Regions from separate parts of the Homo sapiens genome. Here all the other regions are linked to region 3. The links come from fine-mapping of genetic effects on gene expression. A gene starts in region 3. Each other region holds a variant in brackets. All regions are shown on one strand. Distances are from middle to middle. Region 1 holds the start of TAS2R41 (taste 2 receptor member 41). Region 2 overlaps EPHA1-AS1 (EPHA1 antisense RNA 1). Region 3 holds the start of EPHA1-AS1 (EPHA1 antisense RNA 1). Region 4 overlaps EPHA1-AS1 (EPHA1 antisense RNA 1).

The links. PIP is the estimated chance that this variant, and not a neighbour inherited with it, causes the effect. A credible set is the group of variants that fine-mapping cannot tell apart.
Region 1: its variant is the best candidate, but not a certain one, in a credible set for the expression of EPHA1-AS1 in whole blood (INTERVAL, PIP 0.70).
Region 2: its variant is the best candidate, but not a certain one, in a credible set for the expression of EPHA1-AS1 in whole blood (TOPMed, PIP 0.51).
Region 4: its variant is the best candidate, but not a certain one, in a credible set for the expression of EPHA1-AS1 in whole blood (INTERVAL, PIP 0.51).

Annotation. Positions count from the first base shown.
Region 1 is chr7:143,477,064-143,479,808 of GRCh38, forward strand. It overlaps TAS2R41 (taste 2 receptor member 41), which reads left to right and starts at 810. Exons shown (of 1, transcript NM_176883.2): 1 at 810-1,733. The coding sequence starts at 810. The coding sequence ends at 1,733. All of the region lies in intron 2 of EPHA1-AS1 (EPHA1 antisense RNA 1), which reads left to right. The variant C/T (reference allele first, on the strand shown) is at 1,189.
Region 2 is chr7:143,435,796-143,438,540 of GRCh38, forward strand. The region is part of intron 2 of EPHA1-AS1 (EPHA1 antisense RNA 1); the gene reads left to right. It also overlaps the pseudogene TAS2R62P. Among named protein-coding and RNA genes, the nearest start is that of TAS2R60, 6.3 kb to the right of the region's middle. The variant C/T (reference allele first, on the strand shown) is at 1,256.
Region 3 is chr7:143,406,786-143,409,285 of GRCh38, forward strand. EPHA1-AS1 (EPHA1 antisense RNA 1) reads left to right here and starts at 1,028. Exons shown (of 5, transcript NR_033897.1): 1 at 1,028-1,101. It overlaps EPHA1 (EPH receptor A1), which reads right to left and starts at 2,071. Exons shown (of 18, transcript NM_005232.5): 1 at 1,939-2,071; 2 at 826-893. The coding sequence starts at 2,020. RefSeq lists an enhancer at 2,143-2,500.
Region 4 is chr7:143,494,374-143,497,118 of GRCh38, forward strand. The region is part of intron 2 of EPHA1-AS1 (EPHA1 antisense RNA 1); the gene reads left to right. LOC105375547 (a long non-coding RNA gene) reads left to right here. Exons shown (of 2, transcript XR_928075.3): 1 at 1-1,023; 2 at 1,593-2,399. Among named protein-coding and RNA genes, the nearest start is that of TAS2R41, 18 kb to the left of the region's middle. The variant G/T (reference allele first, on the strand shown) is at 1,593.

The sequences.
Region 1 (2,745 bases), 70 kb after region 3:
ATGTTATTTAAGACCCCATCTTGTTAGCAGACTCCCTTTAGAGACTGCTGACTTGACGTGAGTGGCCATGCTGAAACAGCTTACCTGGCAGAGACTGTGAGAGGCCTCTAGGACCAGAGAGCAGTCTCCCACCAACACCCAGGAAGAAACAGGGGCTCTCAGTCCTGCTTCGGAAGGCCCCTCAACCACATGATAATGAATTCTCTCACTGGAAATACAAAACCCGTTTACACCATTATCATTTACATCTCAGGATTCATGGAGGATCTAAGTAGAGATCTGGATGGAGAGGTAGACGAAGTGTTTGATTTTGAAGCGATTTGTGGGCAAAGGCAGTAAGGTAAGCATGGATGTGTAACAGGGAAGTACTGAGACAGAATTCTTTGATGTCACTATTTTTCCTGTGTATCTCCTATACTTGTCTCTATATTTAAAGTCTTAAGAATGTTCTGATGGGAAGAGGAGTGTTCATACGGCCTGAGGATGGAACTCAGTCACAGAGACCCAGAAAAATCATAGACATTGATACTAACCATGGCAGCATGCAGGAAAACTGGACAAGGCAAATTAGGGTAATTTGCAGGCCTAGTGGTAACTGACACTAGGATAAATTTGCATCCTGTCTGAGCCAAGAGCACACCTCTCCTCTTTAGCCTGAGCATCCTCCTCTCTAAGTGAGCTCTGGTTCAGATGCAGAGCCTGACCACTCTTTAGCACTCCTAGGAAAGATTAAAAACAGGACTGTGGCTAGGGGCAGGGAGGAGGCCAGGGACCAAGGCACTCAAGTGGGGACTGCAGGAGGGGTCAGAATGCAAGCAGCACTGACGGCCTTCTTCGTGTTGCTCTTTAGCCTGCTGAGTCTTCTGGGGATTGCAGCGAATGGCTTCATTGTGCTGGTGCTGGGCAGGGAGTGGCTGCGATATGGCAGGTTGCTGCCCTTGGATATGATCCTCATTAGCTTGGGTGCCTCCCGCTTCTGCCTGCAGTTGGTTGGGACGGTGCACAACTTCTACTACTCTGCCCAGAAGGTCGAGTACTCTGGGGGTCTCGGCCGACAGTTCTTCCATCTACACTGGCACTTCCTGAACTCAGCCACCTTCTGGTTTTGCAGCTGGCTCAGTGTCCTGTTCTGTGTGAAGATTGCTAACATCACACACTCCACCTTCCTGTGGCTGAAGTGGAGGTTCC[C/T]AGGGTGGGTGCCCTGGCTCCTGTTGGGCTCTGTCCTGATCTCCTTCATCATAACCCTGCTGTTTTTTTGGGTGAACTACCCTGTATATCAAGAATTTTTAATTAGAAAATTTTCTGGGAACATGACCTACAAGTGGAATACAAGGATAGAAACATACTATTTCCCATCCCTGAAACTGGTCATCTGGTCAATTCCTTTTTCTGTTTTTCTGGTCTCAATTATGCTGTTAATTAATTCTCTGAGGAGGCATACTCAGAGAATGCAGCACAACGGGCACAGCCTGCAGGACCCCAGCACCCAGGCTCACACCAGAGCTCTGAAGTCCCTCATCTCCTTCCTCATTCTTTATGCTCTGTCCTTTCTGTCCCTGATCATTGATGCCGCAAAATTTATCTCCATGCAGAACGACTTTTACTGGCCATGGCAAATTGCAGTCTACCTGTGCATATCTGTCCATCCCTTCATCCTCATCTTCAGCAACCTCAAGCTTCGAAGCGTGTTCTCGCAGCTCCTGTTGTTGGCAAGGGGCTTCTGGGTGGCCTAGATGGCATGGTTTCCTTATCTAGACCCCCGGAAAAGAAAGGTGAGGATGGCAGAGCTGTGGCCCACTGACATGGAGGTGTTTTCATAGGTAGATGAATACTGGGTACTGTTATGGGGCTCCTCCTCTGGGAAGCGGAGGAGACAAGGAAATCTGGGAACTCTCTGAGCATGCTTCCCTTCTTTGGAATGTTATAAAGATGCAGTCCCATGGATCCCAGAGAGCCAGTATTGCCCAGAAGTTCAGAATATGTTAATATGATGTCGTGCTACTCCTTACGTTTGTACCCCTTTGTTATCTGGAAGGCTTCGATTAAAAGTGTTGATTAACTGTGCCATCGCATCTCCACTGCCTTTCAGAAAGTTAAGAGCAAATATTTGCCTCTATGGCTGAACTGAGATGTGGATAGTGAAGCGACAGCCTTCTTGAGGACAAATGTCATGGTTACTACGAGAGCCCCAAGGGACAGGCAGTTGTGGCAGGCAGTGGCCTGGGCTGTGAGTTCTGATTGCCCTTTACTGCATGAAGATACTTTGTCTCCACACAAACTTGGATAATCTGGTTTTAATTTTATTAAGTTTACTGGAAGGTTTCTTTACACCACCCAGTTTCTTTTCTCATTAACATTTCTGACTTCAATTTTCTCTTCTCTGAAGTCTGAGTAGTAGCCAGACTTTTTTCTTGTTTATCATTCCTTTAGAAAAAGACACATTGTGACTTTCTTGTCTTCCTCAAGCATATGTCACAGAGTCACATCTGCATTGAATAAACATGTACTTTTCAATCTGAAAAACAGACTCAGGAATTTCACTGGACTGGGAGTGGTGACGTCCGTAATCCCAACACTTTGGGAAGCTGAGTCAGGCAGACTGCTCGAGCTCAGGAGTTCAAGAGCAGCCTGGGCAAGATAGCGAGACCTCCTCTCCACTAAAAATTCAAAAAAATCAGCCAGGTGTGGTGGTGTGCACCTGTGGTCCCAGCTACTCGTGAGTCTGAGGTGGGAGGATCACTTGAG
Region 2 (2,745 bases), 29 kb after region 3:
TGGGAGGCCAAGGCGGGCAGATCACAAGGTCAAGAGATCAAGATCATCCTGGCCAACATGATGAAACCCCTTCTCTACTAAAAATCCAAAAATTAGCGGGGCATGGTGGCACATGCCTGTAGTCCCAGCTACTTGGGAGGCTGAGGCAGGAGAGTTGCTTGAACCCGGGAGGCAGAGGTTGCAGTGAGCCGAGATCACATCACCGCACTCCAGCCTGGCGACAGAGTGAGACTGTCAAAAAAAAAAAAAAAAAAAAAGACAAGGTGTTTCAGCAGGGTGGTTTTTACTATTATATATTCAGTATTGTTATAGGACAGGGCTCACTCCACATAAAGCAAAACTTCCCTGTGGCCCAGCTTTGCCCTGAGCTCCTCTTGTCATTCCACCAACTCTTGCTTCCCCCAGCTCCTATGGTGATGTCCCCTCTGGGTCAGTTTCCCTTCTCTGTCTTTCTCGTCTTCTCATTATGATTTATCTACTCTCTCTCATTTCCTCAGAGGCTTCTTAGGAACTGATTACTTTTGGTTGATCAAGCACTCTGGAGCCAAGGGGATAACAGTTAACAGATGATGGTAACATATCAGAGAAATCCACATTTTAACTGGAGATTCCATGAACTCCAATATGGAGCTTGACAGTGAAATTTTAGGCAGCATGAGAGGCCAGTGGTTAGGGGGCCTTTTCTTGGTAATGTGAAGCCTTGTGCATGCGAATGATTTTTCTGTTCCACCCATTCGGGAAGTGAGCTAAGGCAGTGTATAGAGGCTACTGAATAAAATATTAAGGCAGGACGTGAAGGGAAGGTTTTTGGTTTGGGGAGGGCAATAAGAGTAACAATGTCTTTTAAAGAAGAGTTAGGAAAGAAATAGTACAGTTAAGACATCATGTACAAAATGTGGGTATTTTCAGTCACCCCAGCAGCCTCTATTCTGTTAATGTTTCTCTGCATCTGGCTCTGAGAAAGGACAGGCAAATACAGGTTATGCAAATAGAGATGGTGTCATTGAGCTGGGAGTGATTTGCATGCCAAAGGAGATTGCAGAAATTATCTTTTCAAATTCTGGGGACTGGGGGTGTTTGCTGGTGGCTGGGATTTTCTATGAATCCAGGGACAAGGGCTTCTGAGTCTCTGGTGTCAACAAGGTGGCTTGACTCAGCCAGAGAGGCTGTTTTTCCCTGAAGATGTGTCCCAGCCCTCTGCAGTAGGAGCTGAGACTTAGCAGAACCTCCCTGGAGAAGATGCCCTCCTTGCCCA[C/T]GTTGATCTTCATAGCCATCTTTTGCCTGGAGTCATTGGCTGCAATGCTGCAGAATGGATTCTTGGTCACAATGCTGGGCAGGGAGTGGGTAAGGTGCCGGATGCTGTCCACAAGTGACATGATTGTGGCCTGTCTCGCTGCCTCCCGTTTCTGCCTGCATGGGGTAGCCATGGTGAACAACCTCCTGGCCTCCTTAGATTTTTCGCGTGCAGTTCCCTATATGAACATCTTCTGGGACCTTTTCAATGCCCTCACTTTGTGGTTTACTGCCTTGCTTGCTGCTTTCTACTGTGTGAAGATCTCATCTTTCTCCCACCCCACCTTCGCCTGGCTGAAGTGGAGGAACTCTCGGTTAGTGCCCAAGCTGATCAAGGGCTCCCTGATCATCTGTGGCCTGGAAGTCATCTCATCAGCCACTGGGAACATCCTGTTTGGTCAGAGGAAGGTCTCCCTGAGTTCCTACAGAAACGAAACTCTAGTTTATAGAGTGCAGGCTTCATTTCAGCTCTACTTTTTCCTTTATGAAGGGTTTGTGTGGTCGATTCTGTTCCTCCTGTTCCTAGTGTCCACTGTCTTGCTCATAGTCTCACTGTGCTGGCAGTTGGGGTAGATGAGGGACCTCAGGCCCGGCCCCTGTGATCCCAGCACCCAGGCTTACACTATGGCTTTAAAGTCACTCACCTTTTCCCTCATCTTCTGTACATTGTACTTCCTGTCCTTGTTTGCTTCTGCTTTGAAAATCATAAACTTTCAGAATCACTGGCACTGGGCCTGGTAAGTGCTAATCTATGCCAACATCTGTCTGCACTCTACCGTCCTGGTGCTGAGGAGCCCCAAACTGAAAAAGGGCCTGAAGACATGGCCTCAGCTCCAGTGCCCACGTGCTGCTGGCTCACAGGGCTTTGGAAGGTGCTGGCCATAGGGTGGTTCTGCTCCTGAGTTATCTGTGTCAGTAACCAGTCCTGGGATGAATGATCCTGGTAGGAATGTATAAGGTTTGGGTACTGTCTTTCTCTTTCCAGTTTCTTCTTTCTCTCCCCCTCTGTCCATGCCTCAGAATCCCTTTTCCATCTTGCTGTCTGTGTTCTTACCATCCCCTCCACTGCTGTGAGTCTCTAGTCCTAGCCGTCAATCACCTTGACTTTTGCTGGTGGCCTCATTTCCTCATGGGGCCCCAAGAATCTATAGGTAAGCAACCCTAATATTTGCCAAGCATCATTTTGGTCTGTATGCCCTTTATAGAGAACTGTAGCTGTCGTCAGTTGTCTCTGTGGGCAAACTGAAGCTTATTTTTTATATATTTTATTTTAATTTTAAGATGGAGTCTTGCTCTGTTGCCCAGGCTGGAGTGCAGTGGCGTGATCTCGGTTCACTGCAGCCTCCACCTCCCGTGTTCAAGCAATTCTCCTGCCTCAGCCTCCCGAGTAGCTGGGACTACAGGCGTGTGCCACCATGCCTGGCTAATTTTTGTATTTTTAGTAGAGATGGG
Region 3 (2,500 bases):
TCACCGAAGTGATTTGTGTTGAGAGTGCAGTAGGAAAAAACTGAGTTTGGTTTTTTGTACATCATAAGAGCTGCTCTCTGCATTTGAGTCTGAATATGCTCTCTCAGACCCACCTCACAACCTGTTCACTGAGTCTTAGGAACATCCAAGGAAGGAAGGGAACTGGAACAAGCTCTGACACTTTCAAACAGCTGGAATGCATGGTGTGCACGCAGTCAGCCTGAGGAGGTGTGGAGGATGAGCTAAGGGCTCAGAAACCTTTAGGGGAGCAGCTTTTAACTTCGGAGGAGTCAAAGACCCTTTGAAGAATTTGATGAAAGCTTTGGCTGGTCTCTCCAGAAAAAAAAATGCCCGCTTACATATACAGAATTTAGAGTACACTTTCATGGGGTTTCCCCACCCCCTGAAACCTATCAATGCAACTTCATTGGGATGAATGGATCTCAGATTGAGGATGCTTTTCTGCCTTTTCTATCCCTCCCCAAGCAAAGCACTGGTCTCAGCCTTCAACCATCCCCAGCATGGTGCATTCTCTCCCCGGGTATGTGAGCTCCTCTCCCCCTCACAAGTATCAGCTTGTATTCACAATATTCCCAAGTATTCACTGGAGGAGCCAGGCCATTCAAGCGTTCATCTTGAGGTGAAGTCTGACCCCCCCACCCCTTGTCCCATTGAGGAGGCTCTGACTCAGCCTCCTCTCCCCCTCCCTGAGGAGACACTTCCAGTTTTTCCTGCTCTTTTCTCTGTTCCTCCACCCACCTCTCCACCCCATTTCCCACTGGCCTTCAGGAGTTTTCCAAGATCCTTCCCTCTTCCGACACTTACCCCATCTTTTGGGGGATCCAGCAGCCAGCCCAGCTCTCCCTGTGCCTTGCTTGTGTCCATCAGAGTAACTGAAAGTGGGGAGAAAAGAAGTCTGTCACCTCTGGGGGAGGAGGTGCCCCTGCAGCCCACATTAATCATTCTGGGGCCTCAGCCCCAGGCTGCAACATCCTGTTCCTAAAAGCTGTGACTTCCTGAGGCTTAGGGGAGAAAAAGGGCTCAGGACTGAGGAGTGAAGAGCTCCAGGGATTTCACTCTTCTTTGTGTGTGTGAAGGAAGGCAGGTAGAGTGGGACAAGGGTTGGGGCGCTGGGTCTTTGACCAAAGTCAATGCAAGAAGAGCAGCCCCACGAGACGCTCAGTTACCCAGGCTGCTGCGTCCTGGGACACCCATCAGCTGCAGGATTGGAACGCGTGGAGGGCAGGAGGAGCTCACCTCTGCTAGCCAGGAGTGGGCAGGGTGGACCGGGGACCTCAGAAGGGGTTTCCTGGGTAGGGAGGCTCACCTCCACTGTCCGAAGCCTGCTTTGGCCTGACCTGGCCAGTGATCAGAGCCGTGAAGTGGGGATAAGAGGCACAGCTACCTGCCTGGGAAGTGGGGGGGAGTAAGGCCGGAGAGGGTGTTCCAACTTTCACATGGAATATTCGACTCGGACAACTGGGAACCCCTGTGGCGTCAGTCCTAACCCTTCTCCCGGAGGCAGCTCCCTCTGTCCCTGGCCTAGGTTGGCAGGAGGCGACTTCCCACCTTCAACTTCCAAGGGCTCAGATCTCTGGGGTGGGCACCTGAAGCTGGGACTGTCTGGGAATGCAGGCAGGGGTGCGGGTGCAGGTGCTACTTCCTGGCAAGGGTCCGGAATTCCCTCCCCACTCCCAGGAGCAGATTGCTGGCCTGCGGGAGTGGGGGTGACTGACCCGGGAGAGCAGCCGCTTGGGGTTAAAGACCAAAGATGGGCCTGGCCAGTCGATAGCCTGGCGGTCGGGCACAGCGAGAGAGCTGGCGAGGGTCTCGGGGAACATGGCCCCTAGGAATGCCGGCTTCTGCAGGGGGGTGCTGGCCGGGCCCCGGGAAGGGGCGGGGCGCGGGGGTTGGGGGCGCGGGGGCGGGGGTCGGTACCTTCCTTGGCGCGCGCCCCCGGGGGCAGCGGGGCGCAGAGCAGCAGCACCAGCCCTAGCCCCAGGGGCCAGCGCCGCTCCATAGCTCCGGGCCGGGACCTGGGACAGTGGCCCGGATGGCAGCGCCAGGTTGCAAGGGACTAGGAGAGCCGGGCGGGCCGGGCGGGGGCGGGGGGCGGGGCCAGCGCCGGGGGCGGAGTCCCGGCCTCACCTGGTTCACCTCCTTAAAGGGACAGTAGGGCAGGAAAGAAACTTGCTAGACTGGTAATCAAATTCAAGAACCGGAGGCGTCTTGACCCGAATGAGACTGCGGGCGCCGCCTAGTAGGTGGGATTAAGAATTGACGAACCTTTTCCCAATTCTAATCCTAAACTCAACCCAATCTTGATCCAGCTTTTAACCTAATTCTACCTCTGACTTGAATTACACTCCTATATTCCTCTTTCTGTCTTTGTGCAGGCCCCAGAGCTGGGTAATAGGGCCGGGGAAGGCAAGGGGTAAGAGTCATATCTTCACCCTCTAGCAGGGGAGGCTTAGATGACCACAATGCAAGGTGGGGTACA
Region 4 (2,745 bases), 88 kb after region 3:
TATAACAATTGGCCAATATTGCAAGATAAAGGTTTACTTACCTGGAAGATTTGTCATTGTAATGACAATGGACTAGGGAACTGTTGTTTAACTTCATGCTCTTCCCCTTTGGGCAAGACCTGAAGAATCTTGGGTTTATCTTTGCTGCTTCCACTGCCCAGGTAAGCTCAGGACCTCACAGGGCCTGAAGCTTTCCCCACCTCAAGGTCTGTGGATGGAGAAAACTGCTAGAACTTCTGACTGAGAGTTGTAGCCAAAGGTTAAGGAGGAGAGCAGCAGTAAAAAGAAAACCAAGGGCACCATGAGGGGGAAGAAGAAGAAAATGACATCTGAGAGGTGGGACCCCTGATGCACTTCAAAGGCAGACTCGGTATGAGCTGACACAGATGACTCCAGTGTAAAGGAAAAGAACTGTTGGGAACCATCCTCCACACTACCTCCTACTCTCATCTAATAAGAATGTTTCCCTGCTGGTAAAAAAGAAAAATGCATCCTTCTTACTTTTCCAAGCACTAAGGTTACAGAAAATATGTAACTAGATTTTTTTTTTTACAAAGTAGGTTAGAAAATAGTAGGAAATATAATATATATACAGTTGGATGTATATAAAGATTGAAAAGTAGAAAAAGAACAGGCAAGATGACCATAAAATGTCAGTGGGTTAATCTCTGGGTGATAGGATTATAGATATTTTTGTTTTCTTATTTTTAGCTTATCAATATTGATATGGCTTGAATTTGTGTCCCTGCCCAAATCTCATGTCAAACTGTAATCCCCAGTGTTGGAGGAGGGGCCTGGTGGGAGGTGATTGGATCATGGGAGCAGATTTCCCTCTTGTTGTTTTCCAATAGTGAGTTAAGTTCTCACAAGATCTGGTTATTTGAAAGTGTGTGGCACCTCCCCGCTGTCTCTCTTCCTCCTGCTCTGGCCGTGTAAGATGTGCCTGCTTCCACTTCGCCTTCCACCATGATTATAAGTTTCCTGAGGCCTCCTCTCCATGCTTCCTGAACAGTCTGTGGAACTGTGAGTCAATTAAACCTCTTTTCTTAATAAATTACCCAGTCTCAGGTAGTTCTTTATAACAATGAGAGAACAAACTGTTACAAATATTTTTAAATGTTTATAATAAACACATATTTTTTCTCTCATAGGAATCCAAATGAAATTTAAAAAATTCACATATCTGATATAGACGTATCGCATTGAGATAGTGATATTAGGAAATGAATTTGCTGTCTTAATGCCTGGCACTACTGAATAGCCTTTGGGCAACATAAGTGAGCATTCAAGGAAAGATACAATTAAAACTGTATCTCAGCAAAGTAGATATAACTATAGGTTTTCGACTATTTATACCATAAAAAATAAATCTGGAAATATTCTATGGTGGCAAACACCCTGGACTAGAGGCAGGACAATGGGTTTTACTCCGGCTTTGGTACAAATTGCTCTATGACTTTTGACAAGTCACCTAATCTCCCTGGGTCTTAGTTTCTTTGTTTGTGAAACCAAATGGTGGAATTGGACCTCAAGGTCCTGCAGAAGTCTGTGTTTTTCAGTGTGTGCATTACAACATTTTCCTTTCATTCTAG[G/T]TACTAGATTCTGAGGTCTGAGACTAAAGTCATTCCATCATGAGTTCCAAACTGGACTTGAGAGGGGAAGAATCATTTCCTTTGAGATTGACCAATACCAGGAGTTTCACTAAAGAAGGCAATGAAAGACCCACAGCCTTGGACATAATTGATTTCCTGTGATATCTGTGTGGGCCCAGGCATGCTGCTCACCTGGGTCTTTCCCCTCTTTCACTCCTTTGGAACTGCCCCACCACTAACCACTTTCCTACTCTCTCCTTCCCCACCCCAGTATCTCCTTGCCTCAAGAGTTTCCTGTTACTAGCAATAATTTAGTTCACTCCCAGGGAACTACTATTTCTGGTTCTCAGTTACTAACCTTTCCATTCAGTTCTTTCCATTCCATTTTTACCAGAATTAACGTTTCCTCATCTTTCCCAGTGAATGTAAAAGGTACCTTCTGGGAAGCATTTTACCGGAACTGATGACTGCTATGCTTGACAGCAGCTTCAACAGCCTCGGATACAACTCATCATGAATTAGCTCTGGCATGACTGAGTTAGAATACTGTTCTGTTTCCTATCTCTACATGTAGGAAAAATTTAAAGTGGCATTTCTATGCTTTGGTCTTTTCTCATAAATGACTTAGGGGAAAACACTTAATGAGGATGAGTAACTAAAATTCAATGAATACTAAAAGCTTTATAAGAATCATCTAATTGAAACTTTACATAATTTCCTTATTATGTATTAACATTGAACGGGCATTATGCATTCCATTTCTAGAAAAGAAGTCTTTCCTTAATAAATTACAAGTGCAAACATGAAGTCCAGGACAATTTTTACTTCAAGATCAACTTGTCTATATGCTAGGATAATGAATTTGAATACTCTTTACTGATGTTCCCTGAAGACGTAGCTATTTTGTTTTCTATAATGATATTATTTTCTTGAGTCTCCATTCTGTTGGGTACTGTAGAAAGAAGACAAAAAGCAAACAATATAATATACCAATTAAAGGTATCTTAGTTTTTTTACAGTATAAATGGTCTCTGTTAACTTAAAATGATCTTTCCAGGTAAATATTTAATTAATTTGAAGTTCTACCTTATATCAGAGTGGTATATTTCTTTTTCTTCCTTATCAACAGGGCTTCTGGGCATAAGACAAAACC